2 separate regions of the Homo sapiens genome follow, and region 1 is linked to region 2. Evidence: fine-mapped expression QTL. A gene starts in region 2. The other region holds a variant in brackets. All regions are shown on one strand. Distances are from middle to middle.

Evidence for each region. PIP is the estimated chance that this variant, and not a neighbour inherited with it, causes the effect.
Region 1: its variant is the best candidate, but not a certain one, in a credible set for the expression of FAM120A in whole blood (TOPMed, PIP 0.52).

Annotation. Positions count from the first base shown.
Region 1 is chr9:93,633,911-93,642,244 of GRCh38, forward strand. It overlaps PHF2 (PHD finger protein 2), which reads left to right. Exons shown (of 22, transcript NM_005392.4): 3 at 2,501-2,615. Among named protein-coding and RNA genes, the nearest start is that of MIR548AU, 43 kb to the left of the region's middle. RefSeq lists an enhancer at 1,558-2,287. The variant G/GT (reference allele first, on the strand shown) is at 3,253.
Region 2 is chr9:93,447,231-93,455,564 of GRCh38, forward strand. It overlaps FAM120A (family with sequence similarity 120 member A), which reads left to right and starts at 4,455. Exons shown (of 18, transcript NM_014612.5): 1 at 4,455-5,159. The coding sequence starts at 4,686. It overlaps FAM120AOS (family with sequence similarity 120 member A opposite strand), which reads right to left and starts at 6,351. Exons shown (of 3, transcript NM_198841.4): 1 at 4,917-6,351; 2 at 3,249-3,369; 3 at 1-467. The coding sequence starts at 5,479. The coding sequence ends at 381. RefSeq lists enhancers at 3,935-4,484, 6,064-6,193, 6,257-6,551 and silencers at 4,065-4,594, 4,735-4,864, 5,165-5,344.

The DNA.
Region 1 (8,334 bases), 190 kb after region 2:
CCCTGAGGCCTCTCCCAGCTGCAATGTCACTGCTGCTGCATAACCACGGGGCTGCCTCACGCTCCTGCCTGAGCCGCCGCTGTCCTGGACCTTCATTGCAGCCTCTCCTTGGAGCCCAGCCCACACTCGGTGTTCCTCGCAGGTGGTGACCTAAGGGCAGGCAGGGAGCTCTGCTTGGTGCAGAAAGCTCAGCTCTGGAAGTTTCCTCCCTAGGTCCCACTTGGCTCCCCCATGGAGTAGATATAACTGCCTCCATTTCCACAAGGCCTTCCAAGGCAGGGAAGGCACTTTGTGAACTCTGGAGCCCCTTGCTCCCTTGATATCCACACCTCCCCAGGTAGTAGCAGGCCCAGCAGGAGGGTGATGGTATTCACAGTCACTGAGGCTTAGGATTGTTGGGGGGTCAGGAGGGTCTGGGCTGTCACTGGGGGTGTCTTTTTTCCAACTCCTTTACCCTCTGGGCTGAACATCTCAGCACACACACCTCTAGGGCCGGCCTTGGCCCCCTTCCCATCTCAGCTCTTAAGAAGCAGGGGCTCCCAAGCATCTATCGCTTGGGTAACACCTGCTCCAGCACCCCCAGCCTTGCACGGAGCCAAGATACTCAGTGAGTGCTTGCAAACTGCAACAGGAGGGCAGGTTGGAGCTATCTATGGCCCTGGCATTGCCTGGCTCAGGCTGGCACCAAGAGGGCAGGAGCATGGGCTGAACTGAGCCTTCTCTGTTGATAGTTATGAAGGCAGATGCATCCACCTCTCCTTCCAAGTTGCTCTGAAGCTGAGCAGCCAGTGTGACAAGGATGGGAGACTTCATCTGCTCGCAGACACTCCCCCTGTGCCCACTGTGTGCTGGGCCCAGTACTGGGCATAGGGGACACACAGGGATGAGCCCAGGGTCTGTTAGGAGCACCAAGCCAGCCTGTGAGTGTGTTCTGCCCGTGAACAAGCACCTACCGCACCAGGTGGCTTTGCCCTGAGAAAAGGCCCAGCAGAGTCTGGAGCAGACAGTGTGCATGTGCCAACCTACATCCCACAGCCACCCCACAAGGCCCGTGTGAGCCTTTCTCTAGTAAAGACGAGGCACAGAGCTGTCAAGTAATTTGCCCAAGGTCACACAGCTGGAAGAGGATTGGCCAAAACAGATTTGAACCCTGTTTGTTGCTCATCTGTGCCCGATGCTTCCCTCAGAAGTCCTGGCTTCTGGCCTTGACTCTGTCGGATTTTGCCAAGTTTCCATAATGTCCACTTGAATTGTGGGCAGGGAGATTGAACACAATGCGAAGATTCTTTGCAAATAAAAGGTCCCAGCCCCACCCAGCCCTTCTCCTTCGTGTTGGTAGCAGATCCTGCTCAGAGACAGGCATTGTCACTGGGTGGTCATTAGCTCCCTTTGTCCCCACAACCACCGAGACTCAGGAGGATGACACATGGCCTTCTAAGGCCCCCATCCCCTGCGCCCCCCACCTTGCCTTTGTCTGTGAAGGAAGGGCACAATACGGGCCCTGCCTGGCTCTGCTCTTGAATTCAGTCCCTTCACTGCTCAAGGGTCAGCCTGTGTCAGACTCAGCCAAGCAGCCCCCGAGGAGGGCATCTCCAGGCCCCAGTGGCCTCCCTTACCCCAGCTGCTCTTCTCTGCCTGGTTGAATACAAGGCTGGGAGCTAGGGACTTAGCGGGGTGGAGAGGAAATTGCTTCCCTCCCCTTAGGGACTTGAAGTCCAGTAGAGGTGTGTGTGTGCGCATAGGGCTTGTGGTCCAGTAGGGGTGTGTGCATGTATATGTACATATGTGTGTGCCTGCATTGTTGCATGGGCGCATAGTCCACTAGGAATGTGTGCACATGTGCTCACATGCACATGTAAAAAGTCCAAGGTGTGTGTACCTCGTGCCCCAGGAGAAGGTGTGACCTGGGCAGTGTGAGGAAGTAGGTGGGGTAGACAGGCCCAGGGTTGGCGGTGGTCAGGGGAGGGCTGGAGTGTGGCCAGCACAGAGGAGTGGGGATGTGCACCACCTGGGGAGGTGGGGAGGAGACGGAACAAGATGGTGGGACCTGACCTGCCCCTGTCTGTGGCTGTGGCAGTTGGGGTGATGGAGGTCCCAGTAGGGAAGTGACAGAGTCCAGCTGTGGAAGCCATGGGATGGTGAGGCCAAACCGTGGCTGAGGACCTTTTCAGGAGGTGGCTCTCTGGTGGTCTCTGCAGACTCAGGGCCTGAATGAGGAGGGGTCCTGGGAGACCCCAGCTTCTGGGTCAGGGAATGGAGGACACTGGTGCCATCCATGGTGAGGTGTGGGATGGGAGAGGACACGAGGTCGAGGTAGGGGGTTGACTCCTCCCTATGTGCATGGCAGGGTGGGGGTGTCATCAGTCTTGAGAGGTGAGCATGAGCCCAGCAATGCTGGGAGTTGTTAGTAGGCTGGGTGGGCCAAGGTTCTTAGGGGAAGTTGTGGAGCCCTGCTGGGGCTGCGCTGTGTGACCGACCTTGCTTCCGGTCTCCTCCACAGTAAAGAAGAAGCGGACCTGGCACAAACACGGCCCGGGGCAAGCGCCTGACGTCAAGCCCGTGCAGAATGGCAGCCAGCTCTTCATCAAGGAGCTGCGGAGCCGGACCTTTCCCAGGTGGGCTGGCCTTCCTGTATGCTCCACCACCTGCAGCCAGGGGATGCACACTCTCTCCGTCCCTTGTCCCGCTATCCATTGCTGGGGGCTTCCTTTGCTATCCTTGCTGGAAAGCAGGAAGCAGGAAGCCTGTCTCCTGGAGGCAGCATAGCCTGCACCAGCAACCCAAAGCTCCCTGCAAATGGGCCAACCTCTCCTTCCCTTGGTCAGCACTTCCCTGGGGGTGGGGGACAAGTATTGGTGACCTTTCTCCCGCTGGGTGGAAGGGACCTCTCTCCCAACCTGAGTATGCCCAGCACATGCCAGGTACTCTCCTGAGCCCTTGGCTCCCAGTCCTTCCTCTGCCCACAAGCATGCTCCCATGGCCCAGGCAGGCGTTGTCCTCATGTCTCCTTCTCAGAGACCCCCAGTGCCCACACTCTTTTTCTGCATGAGGGCAGAGGACAGAATTCTTGGCCACAGGAAGGACACAGCCGGGAGCGGCTCCTGGTGAGAAAGGAGCTGTTTAGGGGAGGCACCTCTGAGCTGCCCTGCAGCCGTTCATGAGCTGGAGTCAGTTTCTGTTTGTCACACAGCCTTTATTTCTCCCTCACTTTTGAAGGATAATTCCGCTGGACGCAGAATCCTAAGTTGGTGG[G/GT]TTTTTTTTCTTTTGACATTTTAAATTCCAACTCCCTTCTTGCATGTGTGATTTCTAATGCAAAATCCAATGGAACTCTTGTTCTGACCCTTCTCTGGGTAAGGTGTTTTTTTCCTGGCTTCTTTATTTTTTCTTTTCTGACCTTTATTGAGATAAAATACAAATAATACAGTTCACCCATTTAAAGTGTGCAGTTCGGTGGATTTTACTGTATTCACAGATATGTGCACATCACTGATTTTGGGACATTTTCATCACCCCCAAAATAAATCCCATAACCTTTATACATCATCCCTGTCTTCTCATCCCCCCTCCCAGCTGTCTTTAGCAACTACTAATCCACTTTCTTGTTTCTGTAGATTTGCTTCATATAAATGGAGTTCTACAACAAGACTGGCCTCTTTCATTTAGCAGAGTGTGTTCAAGGGTCGTCTGTGCTGTGGCATGTGTTAGCACCTCACTCCTTTTTTGAGGCTGAATGATATTTCATCGTATAGATATCCACATAGGTACTCTGTCTATCCATTCATCAGGTGATGGTCATTTGCGTTGTTTCCACTTTTTGTCTACTATGAATAATTGTGCCATAAACATTTTTATACAAGTTTTTATGTGGACATATGCTTTTATTGTTTTAGGAGTGGAATTGCTGGGTCATATGGTAACTCTCTGTTTAACTGTTTGAAGAACTGTCAGACTGTCTTCCAAAGCAGGTTCCCCGTTTTACCTTCCCACCAGCAGGGTATGAGGGTCTCGATTTCTTCACATCCTCACTAGAACTTGTTATTATCTGACTTAACTTGATTCTAGCCATGCGAGTGGGTATGAACTGGTATCTTATTTTTTGATTTTCATTTCTCTAGTGATTAGTGATGTTGAGCATCTTTTCATGAGCTTGTCGATCCTTGTATATCTTCCTTGGAAAAATGACTATTCAGGTCCTTTGCCCATTTTTAATTTTTTTGCTTTTTTTTTTGTTATTGAGTTTAAAAGTTTCATATATAGTACATTCTAGATACAAGCCCCATTACCTGATATATGATTTCAAAATACTCTCTCCTATTCTGTGGGTTGTCTTTTTACTTTCTTGATAGTGCCATTTGAAGTAGAAAAGTTTTTAATTTTGATAAAGTCCAATTAATCTATTTTTTGTTGTGCTTTTGTTGCATATCTGAGAATCCATTGCCAAATCCAAAGTCATGAAGATTTATTGATATATTTTCTTCTAAGAGTTTTGTAGTTTTAGCACATACAGTTTGTTCTTTGATACATTTTGAGCTTATTTTTGTATATGGTGTGAGGTAAGGATTGAACTTCATTTTTTTTGCATGCAGCTCTTCATTTGTCCCAGTACCATTGGTTGAAAAAACTATTCTTTTGCTAGTAAACAGTCTTGGCACCCTTATCAAACTCAATTGGCCATAGATGTGTTTGTTTCTGATATTCAATTCTATTCCACTAATCTATATCTCTGCTTATGCCAGTACCACACAGTCTTAATTACTATAGTAATTTATAGTAAGTTTTGAAATCAGGAAGTATAAGTCTTCCAAGTTTGTTCTTTTCTTTTTTTTGAGACGGAGTCTCACTCTGTCACCCAGGCTGGAGTACAGTAGCACGATCTTGGCTTACTGCAACCTCCACCTCCCGGGTTCAAGTGATTCTTCTGCCTCAGCCTCCTAAGTAGCTGGGACTACAGGCGTGCACTACCACGTCTGGCTAATTTTTTGTAGTTTTAGTAGAGACAGGGTTTCACCATGTTGGCCAGGATGGTCTCAAACTCCTGACCTTGTGATCTGCCCACCTCGGCCTCCCAAAGTGCTGGGATTACAAGCGTGAGCCACCATGCCTGGCCAAGTTTGTTTTTCTTTTTCAAGTTTGTTTTGATCATTCTAGGTCCCTTGTATGTCATTTGAATTTTAAGGTCAGCTTGTCAGTTTTTACAAGGAAGTCAGCTGGGATTTTGAAAGTAATTGCTTTCAATCTGTAGATCACTCTGCAGGTATTTCCATCTTAACAGTGTTAAAACCTCTAAGCTGTGAACATGGTTACTTTTCCATTTATTTTGATCTTTTAAGTTTCTTTCAAGAATTATTTATAGTTTTCAGAGTATAAGTTTTACATTTCCTCTGTTAAATATATTCTGAAGTATTTTATTCTTTTTGGTGCTTTTGTCAATAGAATCGTTTTCTTAATTTTCAGATTGTTCATTGATAGTGTGTAGAAATACAATTGATTTTTATATGTTGATCTTGTATCTTGCAACCCTGCTGAACTAGTTTATTAGTTCTAATAGTTTTTTTTTAGAGGGTTCCTTAGTATTTTATATATACATATGACCATGTCATTTGCAAATTGAGATAGTATGACTTATTCCTTTCCCATCTAGGTGACCTGTATTTATTTTTCTTACCTAATTGCTCTCCCAAGAACCTCCAATATCACCTTGAATAGAAGTGGCAAGGTGAGGGTGGTCAGGGCCCCCCTCAGCACTATCAGCATGCCACACCCAAGGGAGAGCTTCAGTTTCACTAGTCAGAGCTGGATGCAAGAAGGCAGCCCCCACCTCTTGGCATTACTTGCTGCAGACGTAAACTCAGCAACAGGCAGCTGGGGCAGAATGAGAAGTGGAAGTCCTGCTCTCCCAAGAAGAAAGCTCTCTAGCTGGGAGCCGGTGGGGACGAAGCCTGTGTTTTTGGCTGCAGCACTTGGGAGTGGAGTGTCCACCTCTGAGCTCTGAATGTGAATGGAGGGAGCAGTCTTGGTCCAAATATCACAGACTGTTCTTACTGAGTTTTTGGAGATTTTCTTAAATAGATGTTTCTTCATTTGCTGTTTGGTCTTGGGACCATTTCCAGAGGCTCTGAATAATTGTTTTTTAAATAATTTTCAGCATTTCATTGTCATGCTGGAAGTTGACCTCGCTCATCTGCCTTCTTTCAAGATAGTTGCTTGGTCTTTGGTTTTTTTTGCAGTTCAAATATGATATGCCTAGGTGCAGAATTTTTGGCATTTATCCTCCTTTATGTGGTCTAAGCTTTTTGGATCTTTGGTTTCATGTCTGCCATTAATTTTAGAAAATTCTCAGCCATTATTAATTCAAATAAATATTTATTCTACTGCATTTTCTCTTCCTTTTTATATTCTCAATATGCACATTAGGCTGTTTGTAGTTCTTCTTCTACATTTCTTGGATATTCTGCGCCTCCCCTTGACCCCCACCCACATGCTTCTTTGTTCTGCTTGGATTTCAGGTTGGAAGTTTTTATTGATATAACTTCAAGCTTACTGGTTCTTTTCTTGGCCATGTCTAGTCTACTGATGAGCCCATCAAAGGCATCCTTCATTTTTGCTACTTTTATTATTGTTTTTTAATTTCTAGCCTTTCCTTTTGACTCTGTCTTAATTTCCATTTCTCTGTTTACATTACCCATATGTTCTTACATGTTGTCAGCTTTTCCCATTAGTGTAGCTAACATACTAATCCTAGTTATTTTAAATTTCCTGTCTGATAATTCGGAAATCTGTGCTATGTCTGAGTCTTCTTCGGATGCTTGCTTTGTCTCTTCAGACTACAGTTTTTCTTGCCATTTAGCAGGCTTAAAATTTCTTGTGAAAGCTGGACACGATGTATTGTGTAATAGGAATTGAGGTAATTAGGATTTAGTGTGAGGTTTTATGTTAATCTGAGTAGGACCTGGGCTGTGTTAAATTTGCTATAGCTCTAGGTGCCAGAGATGTCAGCTTCTTCTAGTTTGTTTGTTTGTTTTTCTCCTGGTTTCTTTGGGTTTTCCTAAGAATTTCATGTTAAACAGAGTCTGTGTCTGCAGCTCTCTCAGTTATAGTCAGCTATTATTATACTGATGTATGGTGGTAGGTTTTGGGGAGGGGAAGTGTTCTATAATTTCAGGATTAAATCTCAGTTTTGTAGAGTCTCTGGGCTGTGATCATTAGGAGCATTTCTCAGCCTTTTTAATTTTTCTCTCCTTATCTGAGACAGGAAGGTTAGTGGGGGCTGGAGGTCGCCAAATGCTTTCCCCATGTCCAGTAGAGTCTGATACAGGGGAGCAGACTTTTGTTATGGAGAACAACACTCTGGATGTATTTAAAAATAGATTCTATTTCCATCCTTCTGCCGGATTAAGGAGTTTTTAACTCTTAAACTGATCTACACTTAACTTTTGGCAGTTTGACAAAAGTTATCACTTAAGTGTTCCTACAGGTCACTGCCTCCAGCAGCTTCCGCTTCAGGTAAGGCGATCTCAGCTATGATTTTCTGTCTCCTCAGATTTTGGGTGGTTGGTTGTTTGCCCTATGAGCTCAATTCTCTGATGAATATAAGAAAAGTTGTTGATTTTCTGTTTGTTCAGCCTTTTTCTTGTGGGGAAGAGGGGAGTGACAACATCCAAACTCTTCACATGTTGGAGCTGAAACCAGAAGAACAATTCCACATTATTTTAGCCACCTTAAATTCATTGGGTTATCTGTTGTTTTATTTTTGAGTTGTAAGAATTCTTTACATATTCTAGATACTTGTCCTTACCAGACACTTTCTGCCATTCTGTGTTGTCTTTGTAGTTTCTTGACAGCGTCATTTGAAGCACAAAAGTTTTTAATTTTAGTGAAGTCTAACTTACCTCTTTTTTCCTTTTATTGCTTGTGCTTTTGGTATCACTGCTGATAAATCATTGCCTAATCCAAGATCTTGAAGATTTATGCCTTTGTTTTCTTCTGTGAGTTTCATAGTTTAAGCTTTTATATTTAGGTCTTTGACTCATTTTGATTGAATTTTTGTATACTATCTGAGGTAGGAAGAACTTTATTCTTTTGCATATGGATATCAACTTTTCCTAGCAACATTTATTGAAAAGACTGGCCTCTCCCCATTGAACTGTTTTGGCACTCTCCTTGAAAAGCAGTTGATTGTGGGTGTTAAGGATTTATTTCTGGGCACTTAAGTGTATTCCATTCCTCTGTATATCTTTTCTTATGACAGTACCACCGTCTTGACTGTAGGAGCTTCGTATTGAATTTTGAGGTTGGGAAGGGTCTTCCAGCATTGTTCTTTTAAAAGACTGTTTT
Region 2 (8,334 bases):
TATCTATTTGTCTATATGTCTGTCTACCTTGGTAGGTTGGGCTCCTTGAAGAAGGGTTATGTTTTCTTCATCTCCATATCCCCAGTAGCTGGCCAATGCCCAGTATACACCAGGGGCTCAGTCGCTGTTTGTCTTATTTTCTTGTTGACTCTACTCTGACTTAGGACATATCACTTTCCTCTCTTGACCTTCACATTCAGATGTGTTAATAAAAGTGGATAAAGACCACTCTAGCTTTAAAACACCCTCCAATATAGAGAGAACTCTGAAACCAGAAGCAGAAGCTGAGGAATGGTGAATAGAGCATTTTCCCTCACACGATGGGTATCAGGGTGGTTTCTTGTCCTTTCAATGCCTCTGCAGAACTTGACCCTAGTTTTTCAAATTGGACTCAAGAATGATCTTAGTGTTGGTGGTTTTGTGGTTTTCTTTGAGACTTTGTTATTGACAGAACAGCTTCTGGAAATCTGAAAAGAAAAAAAAAAAGGTAGTTTATATATTAGTTTGGAATATGAAATGTATTTTGTCATGGTCTCCAGAGTCCGAATATTGATCTCTGTGGAGCTCTCCTACCCTCTGCTACTGCTGATAACTCATAGTACTGGAGAGATAGCAGAGCCTGAAGACCAAAAAACTCAACTGCCGATACACGGCTGCAGTGTGGTCAGTTACTGATCTACCATTTATGAAGCAGGCCTACAGATGTGTGTGTTCTTCTGGGTAATTTAAATTGACAATTAATTAACAGGGCTGGTGCTAGGTAAACATTATAGGTTAGAATCCCTAGTGTGGATTAATTTGCTCTCTTCCATGATCGCAGACTCCCTGCTTAGCTCCAGTCTGCTGGTCTCCCAACATCTGCTAATGATTACATGGGCAGCATTAAGGTCTCTTATTACCTTGTTTGAAAAACTGGAAACTCATCTGTTATTGTTGGTGGTTAGATACCTCACCTAAGTAAAATATTAATTAATGATATTAGGCTGGGCGCGGTAGCTCATGCCTGTAATCCCTGCACTTTGGGAGGCAGAGGCAAGTGGATCACTTGAAGTCAGGAGTTCGAGACTGGCCTGGCCAACATGGTGAAACCCCGTCTCTACTAAAAATACAAAACTTAGCCAGGTGTGATGGTGTGTACCTGTAATCCCAGCTACTCCAGAGGCTGAGGCAGGAGATCACTTGAACCTGGGAGAGGGAGGTTGCAGTGAGCTGAGAACACATCATTGTACTCCAGCCTGGGCAACAGAGCAAGACTCCATCTTGGGGGAGAAAAAATAAATAAAATAAATACAAAATAAAAAAAGAAAAAGTCCCCAACCATTAGTTGTCATATTGTAACCTCCAAGAAGACATAACTTTTTATTAAATTTTAAATACAGATGTTTATTTTTTATTTTTTATTTTTAAGATGGAGTCTCGCTCTGTTGCCCAGGCTAGAATGCAGTGGCGTGATCTCGGCTCACTGCAAGCTCCGCCTCCTGGGTTCACGCCATTCTCCTGCCTCAGCCTCCTGAGTAGCTGGGACTATAGGCGCCTGCCACCACGCCCGGCTAATTTTTTTTTGTATTTTTTTTAGTAGAGACGGAGTTTCACCGTGTTAGCCAGGATGGTCTGGATTTCCTGACCTTGTGATCCGCCCACCTCAGCCTCCCAAAGTGCTGGGATTACAGGCGTGAGCCACTGCGCCCGGCCCAGATGTTTATTTTTACCTCAATATTTAAGCAATTTAACTTCAACCAACCCCTGAATTTGAGTTAAGGATGCAGAGTATATAAGTGTTTGTCAGCTAAACATTTTGCCCACCATCAATAGCTACTCAATAAATAAAGTTTTTTTTTTTTTTTTTTAAAGAACACAAAGCTAAATAGGGCAACTAAGAATTGAGTTTTATGTGTTATGATACAATAATGAATTTTAAACTTTCCAAAAGTACAATAACTGGTCTATGTTCTCGAGTATAAGTCTAGACAAATACAGTTTCTGGAAATAACTACAAAAGCCAACATTTATTGAGCATTTGTTGTGTGGCAGGCACACAGGTTATCTGATTTAATCCTTATAACAACCTGGGAGGTTAAGTACTATTAATATGTTGATTTTACAGATGATAAAATCCAAGGTTCAATAAGGTAAATATTTTTGCAAGGGCACAGACTTATCATAAGATGGATATTGGGGGCCTGACTCCAGAACCTTAGACCTCTACAATATAATAAGGTGAAAATAAATTTATTTCCAGAATTCCAGATACTGGCACTGGCATTTTTTTTTTTTTTTTTTTTTGAGATGGAGCCTCGCTCTGTTGCCAGTCTGGAGTGCAGTGGCGTGATCACTGCAACCTCCACCTCCCAGGTTCAAGCAATTCTCCTGCCTCAGCCTCCCGAGTAGCTGGGACTACAGGTGCGCACCACCACGCTCGGCTAATTTTTGTGTTTTTAGTAGAGATGGGGTTTTACCATGTTGGCTAGGATGGTCTCCATCTCTTGACCTCGTGATCTGCCCGCCTCGGCCTCCCAACGTGCTGGGATTACAGGCGTGAGCCACCACGCCCGGCCGCACTAATGCATTTTTAAAAATTAAAAGCAAGAGTGTTTAAAGAAAAGGTAAATACACGGAATGCAATGCTACAAATGAAAATACGAGTGATTAAAAACTACTACTCCTCACCTTGTGAACCTGCCTTGGGTTATAAAAGCAAATTTGGATATTTCTGGATTTTGCTCGTTATTTAATGGCTAACTGTATTATTTCTTTTATTTATTTATTTATTTTTGAGACGGAATCTCGCTTTTTGCCCAGGCTAGAGAGTGCAGTGGTGCCATCTCCGCTGACTGCAACCTCCGCCTCCCGGGTTCAACCAATTCTCCTGCCTCAGCCTCCCAAGTAGCTGGGATTACAGGCGCACACACCACCAGGCCCGCCTAATTTTTGCATTTTTAGTAGAGACGGGGTTTCACCATGTTGGCCAGGCTGGTCTCGAACTCCTGATCTCAAATGATTCACCCGCCTCGGCCTCCCAAAATGCTGGGATTACAGGCGTGAGCCACCGCACCTGGCCTGTATTATTTTTAGATAACATGTCATCCTGGCTTTGTGACTAATTTTATGCATAGGTGAGTGGCATAACTTGTCAGCCTGCTTTTAAATGTAACTTCCTAAAATACCAGCAGCATTTAATTTATGTACGTATGATACTGGCTTGCATTTGAGGTGGGTATCAGAAAAGAAAGCAGAAAAATCCAACTTGCCTTTTTCACCGGGAGTATGGGGGCTTCTTTGGCCAAACCGTGCGCGTGCAGGCTCCATGTGCTGGGCAGCAGCTGTCCGGCCACAGCCTGTCGGTTGCATCCTGCTCCTCTACAGAGGTTTCTCCAAAAAAAGAACAAATGGAGAGATGAAGGTAAGTAAAAGCGGCACTTTAAAACTTTTAGAGTGCTGGGTTTCTAAATTTATATTCTGAAAGACATTAATCTCTTTTTGAAAATGTTTTATGCAAGCCTAATATACATACAGTATCAACCTCATTTTAGAAGCAGTTACGACAGAGCTTTGGAACAGAATTTACGTAAACGACCTCCTTCCAGAAGATGCTACTAAAGCAACAAGATTCAAATCCCTCTCCCTCAGAAGAGCTGGGAGATCCACTGCAAAGGCGCACGTTTCAGTCTAGCCATTGCGCAGTGGTAACGCAGGCTTTCCCACGCTGCAACAGACCTGTGCTCTCAAGACAGTCTCTTCCGTGACGAGCAGGCGCTTAGGGCTACCTGTACCTTCAGACATTATGGTGTGTTTGGCCATGTCATTTGTCATAGGTGTAAAAACCACAACCGAGAGCCCGAAGCTGCTGGGATGAGCACCTGCCGCGGAACTGCATTCTCGCGCTCCTTCCTGCTCTTTCCAAGAAGCCAGGCGCGGCCGGCCAGCATCCCGCTCTCCCGGACCCCGCAGTCAGTGTGGGCAGCAGGCCCAGAGTGGTGCGAGCCGACGGCGGCGTTAGAAAGGCGGCGTCCCGACGAACAGAGTGACTCGGCCTCGGCTCCCCTTCAAAGCGCCATCTTATCGCTGCTTCCCTCAGGAGCAGGCGAGCTCTTCCCCAGGACCTGCTTCGCGGCTTCCCTTCGCCCGAGAACCACCGGGCGGAGGCGGCGGCCTCTCTGGCCCTGCCGGGAACAGGGCGCAGGGGAGGGGAGCGGCGGCCGACCGGCCTGAGGCGGGCGAACGGCCTCTGGCCTCCAGGCGCTGCCTGCTCCGGCTCAGAAGCCTCCCGGATCCCGTCCCGGCCCAACTCCGGGCCTCCGCCTCCGCCGCCGCCTCCGGGAGCCCCGAGCCGCGTCCCGCCGGCGCCGCCTCTTCCGCCTGCTAGCCGGCGGGCCTGGGCGGCGTCCGCGCCGGGCGGGTCCGCTACGTCAGCGCCGCCCGCCCGCCCCGCCCCGGCCCTCAGCCTCGGCCTCGGCCTCGGCCTCGCAGCGGCGGCAGCGGCGGCGGCGGCAGGTCCCTCCCCAGACATGGCCCTGGGAGGCGGCAGCACATGGCGGCCGCGGCGGCCATGAGCGCGCCCCCGACCCGCCCCAGTCCCCCCTAGAGGCCGCCGCCCCCGCCCGCCAGCCCGCCCGCGCGCCACGGCCCCACCACCCCCGGCCCCGCCGCCCCCCGCCCGCACCCGCGCCCGCGCCCCCGCCGCCGCCATGGGCGTGCAGGGCTTCCAGGACTACATCGAGAAGCACTGCCCGAGCGCCGTGGTGCCGGTGGAGCTGCAGAAGCTGGCCCGGGGCAGCCTGGTGGGCGGCGGGCGGCAGCGGCCCCCGCAGACCCCGCTGCGCCTGCTGGTGGACGCCGACAACTGCCTGCACCGCCTCTACGGCGGCTTCTACACCGACTGGGTCAGCGGCGGCCAGTGGAACCACATGCTTGGCTACCTGGCGGCGCTGGCCAAGGCCTGCTTCGGCGGCAACATCGAGCTCTTCGTCTTCTTCAACGGCGCGCTCGAGAAGGCCCGGCTGCACGAGTGGGTCAAGCGGCAGGGCAACGAGCGCCAGACGGCACAGCAGATCGTCAGCCATGTCCAGAACAAGGGCACCCCGCCGCCAAAGGTCTGGTTCCTGCCGCCCGTCTGCATGGCCCACTGCATCCGCCTGGCGCTCATCCGCTTCCACGTCAAGGTGAGGCCGGGGATCCGGGCGGGCCGGGGACCGGGGCCGCGCCGCACCCCTATCCCCCTTCCCAGGGCGCAGAATGTCGCCCGGCCGTGGCGGCGCTGGGGGCAGCGAGTTCCCCCAGCCCTTGCCCGGGATAGCCTGGCCGGGCCGGGCTGCAAGATGGATGGCCGCGGGTGCAGGCCGCGCGCTGCCCAAGCCCGTCTCCAGCTGTCCCTGTTCGGGGTCCGCGGCCGCGTGGGGACACTTGAGGGCTGGGAGAGAGCCCCGGACCAGAATTCGGAGGCGACAGTGTCATCATCCCCAATATCCTTAGTTTTTCCCATCCTATTTGAGGCGGGCAGGCTATCACTCACCTTCAACTTTGACAAAATACTCCCTTTTCTAATTTAGCCTGTTCTTTCCCAGCAACAGGTTCATCTTGGAAGCAGGCAGGATACAGAGTAATAGAGGGGGTTTCGCCAGAGCCCTTGGGGGCTGCAAATATCAGTGCTGCTGCCGCCGCCCTTGCCAATGTTGTTAGCCCGGTGACAGCGAGACGTGTCTAAGGGCCAGTGCCCTGGCCTCTACTTCAGAACGCAGTGCCCTGTCCGTGTTCCTCTTAGTACAGGGTGTTTAGAGAATCTTTCTATGGCTTTTTGTGTTAGATTTCAAAGACCCGTGCACTTTGACAGGATGGGATTTTGTCAGTTCTGTGACTTCACGTCCGTGTGAAAGAGGTCTTTAAGGCAGTTCGGTTTTGTAGATCCCATGCGAAAGGAGTCGCTCAAAATCAGGGGGCGAACTACGCGGGCGTGAACTCGCAGGATTTATTTTTCGGGTGCACAGTAAGTATTCAGTGACCTTCAGCGGTGCCCTGACGGGTGGGTAATCAGAGCTCTATATCACCGGCCTCCTCTGGCCCTTTGGCAGAGGGCTTCGCAGCTGGCACTGGGCCAGAGGAGAACTTCAGGACCCAGCAGTGACTGTGAAGATAAGCACATCCATGATCCTGGACTTCACGTTCTGATTGCTTGCTTTTTTCATTGGTTTTCTTGAAAACAAATTTTGGGGGCCTTTTTGTTGTCTTAGCTCTTGACACTCGGTCTTCCATCTTGTCATTTGACATTTCCTTGAAACTGCTGGAGCTGAAAGTTTGTGAAATTCTGTCTTCGCGGTTGCCCCCACTGCCCGCGAGGAGATGGTGGTAGTTAAGCCTAAAATGATAGCGGAAGTCCCACCCACGATCCGGTTGCAATTGGTGAGATGGTGTTTAAGTCGTGGGTGGAGGCGGCCGGCAGAGTCCCGATTGGCCCCTGCGCCTGGCAGACACACAGCTGCCATTCCTCAGGGAAGTTCGGGTGAGAGGAAGTGCCTGCCTTTTAATTTCTGAATCGGAGCCTGGGGCGCTCAGGGAAGTAAGGTGCTGCCATTTGTCTGAAGCGATCCATCTCCCTAATAGAGCGTAAAAGTGTTCATAGTTTAGTCTTGTTCAGAGATGGAAAAGACTACTTAAAAGACAGGATGAGCTGCACTGACTTGCCTTTGGTAACCGCACAGCTCTCTACTTAACTAGTCAAGCGACTTTCAAGGGAACACTGTGAATATTACTTAGGATTAGAATCAGTATGTATGCATATGGTCACTGTATCTTTAAAGAACTGTTGAGTTCTTTTTAATTCTACAGTTTCTTTATCTTTGCACCCCTTTGAATGCCTCGCACACCTAGTAGGTGCTCAGAATTCAGACCAATGTGTCAGTGTTAGGAAACTAGATTTAAGCTCCATTTAAGATCGTCTTTTTCACTTAGGTTTCTGGACACGGGATAATGGGATAATTTTGTCTGTATTTTGCTTTTGCTAAGCTTTTAATTATTGACCTAGGGTCATATTATAGTGCGAATTGCACAAAATGAATATTGTAATAACTCAATTACTTGGTGGTCTCTTAGCTGGCAACCTTACCTTTTTGAAAAGTGCCTAAGAGATTTAGCTACTAGAAATTTCTCAGCAACCAAGCAAGATGTCAGGAAGTTTGGGTACAGTGATGTGGGGGGTTGGCGGGTGTAGGGGGGTGCTTTTGCTTTCCTCACTGAAGAATCCTTTAAGCTCTCTCACTCATGGACTGGCCTCTTTTCATATGTAATTCTAACAAGCTTGGTTATCTATTTTCTAAACTCAGCTTGAGAAGAGGATGAAGAGGAGAGTCTGCCAGAGGCAGGAGCACCATTAATAGCAAGAAGTGACAAGAGAGATTTAAAAAGCTATAAAAAGCAAACATAATTCTGGGGCTATTTTAAGAAAAGGAAAACAACCCTATGTACTTCCTTGGTCCCTGAGGGTAGTACAATGTTTATTCTATAAGGATGATTTTGAGTCATAAAAATTAATATTCAGCATTCTCTGTTTAAGGGATTGAAACAGTGTATACCATTTAATAAAAGATACCCATAAAGTGGTTAAAACGTTTAAAACCATGATATCACTACATGCCTATTAGAATGGCTAAAAGAGAAAAAAATATGAGCAATACCAAGTGCTAGCAAGAATGCTGAGCAACTGGATCCTTACACATTGCTTGTGGGAATGCAGAATGGCACCACCACTCCAGAAAACAGTGGCACTTTCTTATAAAGTTAAACATACATTTATCATACGATCCAGCAATTCCACTCCTGGGTATTTTCCTAATGAAGACTTTTGTTTGTGCAAAAACTGGTACTCAAATGTCCATAGCAGCTTAATTCATAATAGCCCAAACGTGGAAACAAAGTATCCTTTAATAAGTGAATGGTTAAACTACAGTATAGCCATACTATGGAATACTACTTAGCAATAATAAGGAAGGAATTGCTGGTGTAGGTAACAACTTGCATGAATATTTAATTAAGGTTTTATACTGAGTGAAAGAAGCCAGGTTCAAAAGGGATGATTATAAAACTATAGTGATAGGGACCAATTCAGTGGTGCTGAGAGTAGAGGAGGGGAAGGATGTACACATAAAGGGGACAGCAGGAGAGATCTTTGTGGAGTGATGGAACTGTTCTGTATTCTGATGGTGGTGATGCTACCATACATTAAAATCAGAACTATTCATCCAAAGTAAATGTGTTAATTTTATCATATGATAATTTTTTTAAGATTAAGTAAAAACCACTGGCAAAGGAATTGACATGAACAATTCAGTATATATAATGTTGAGT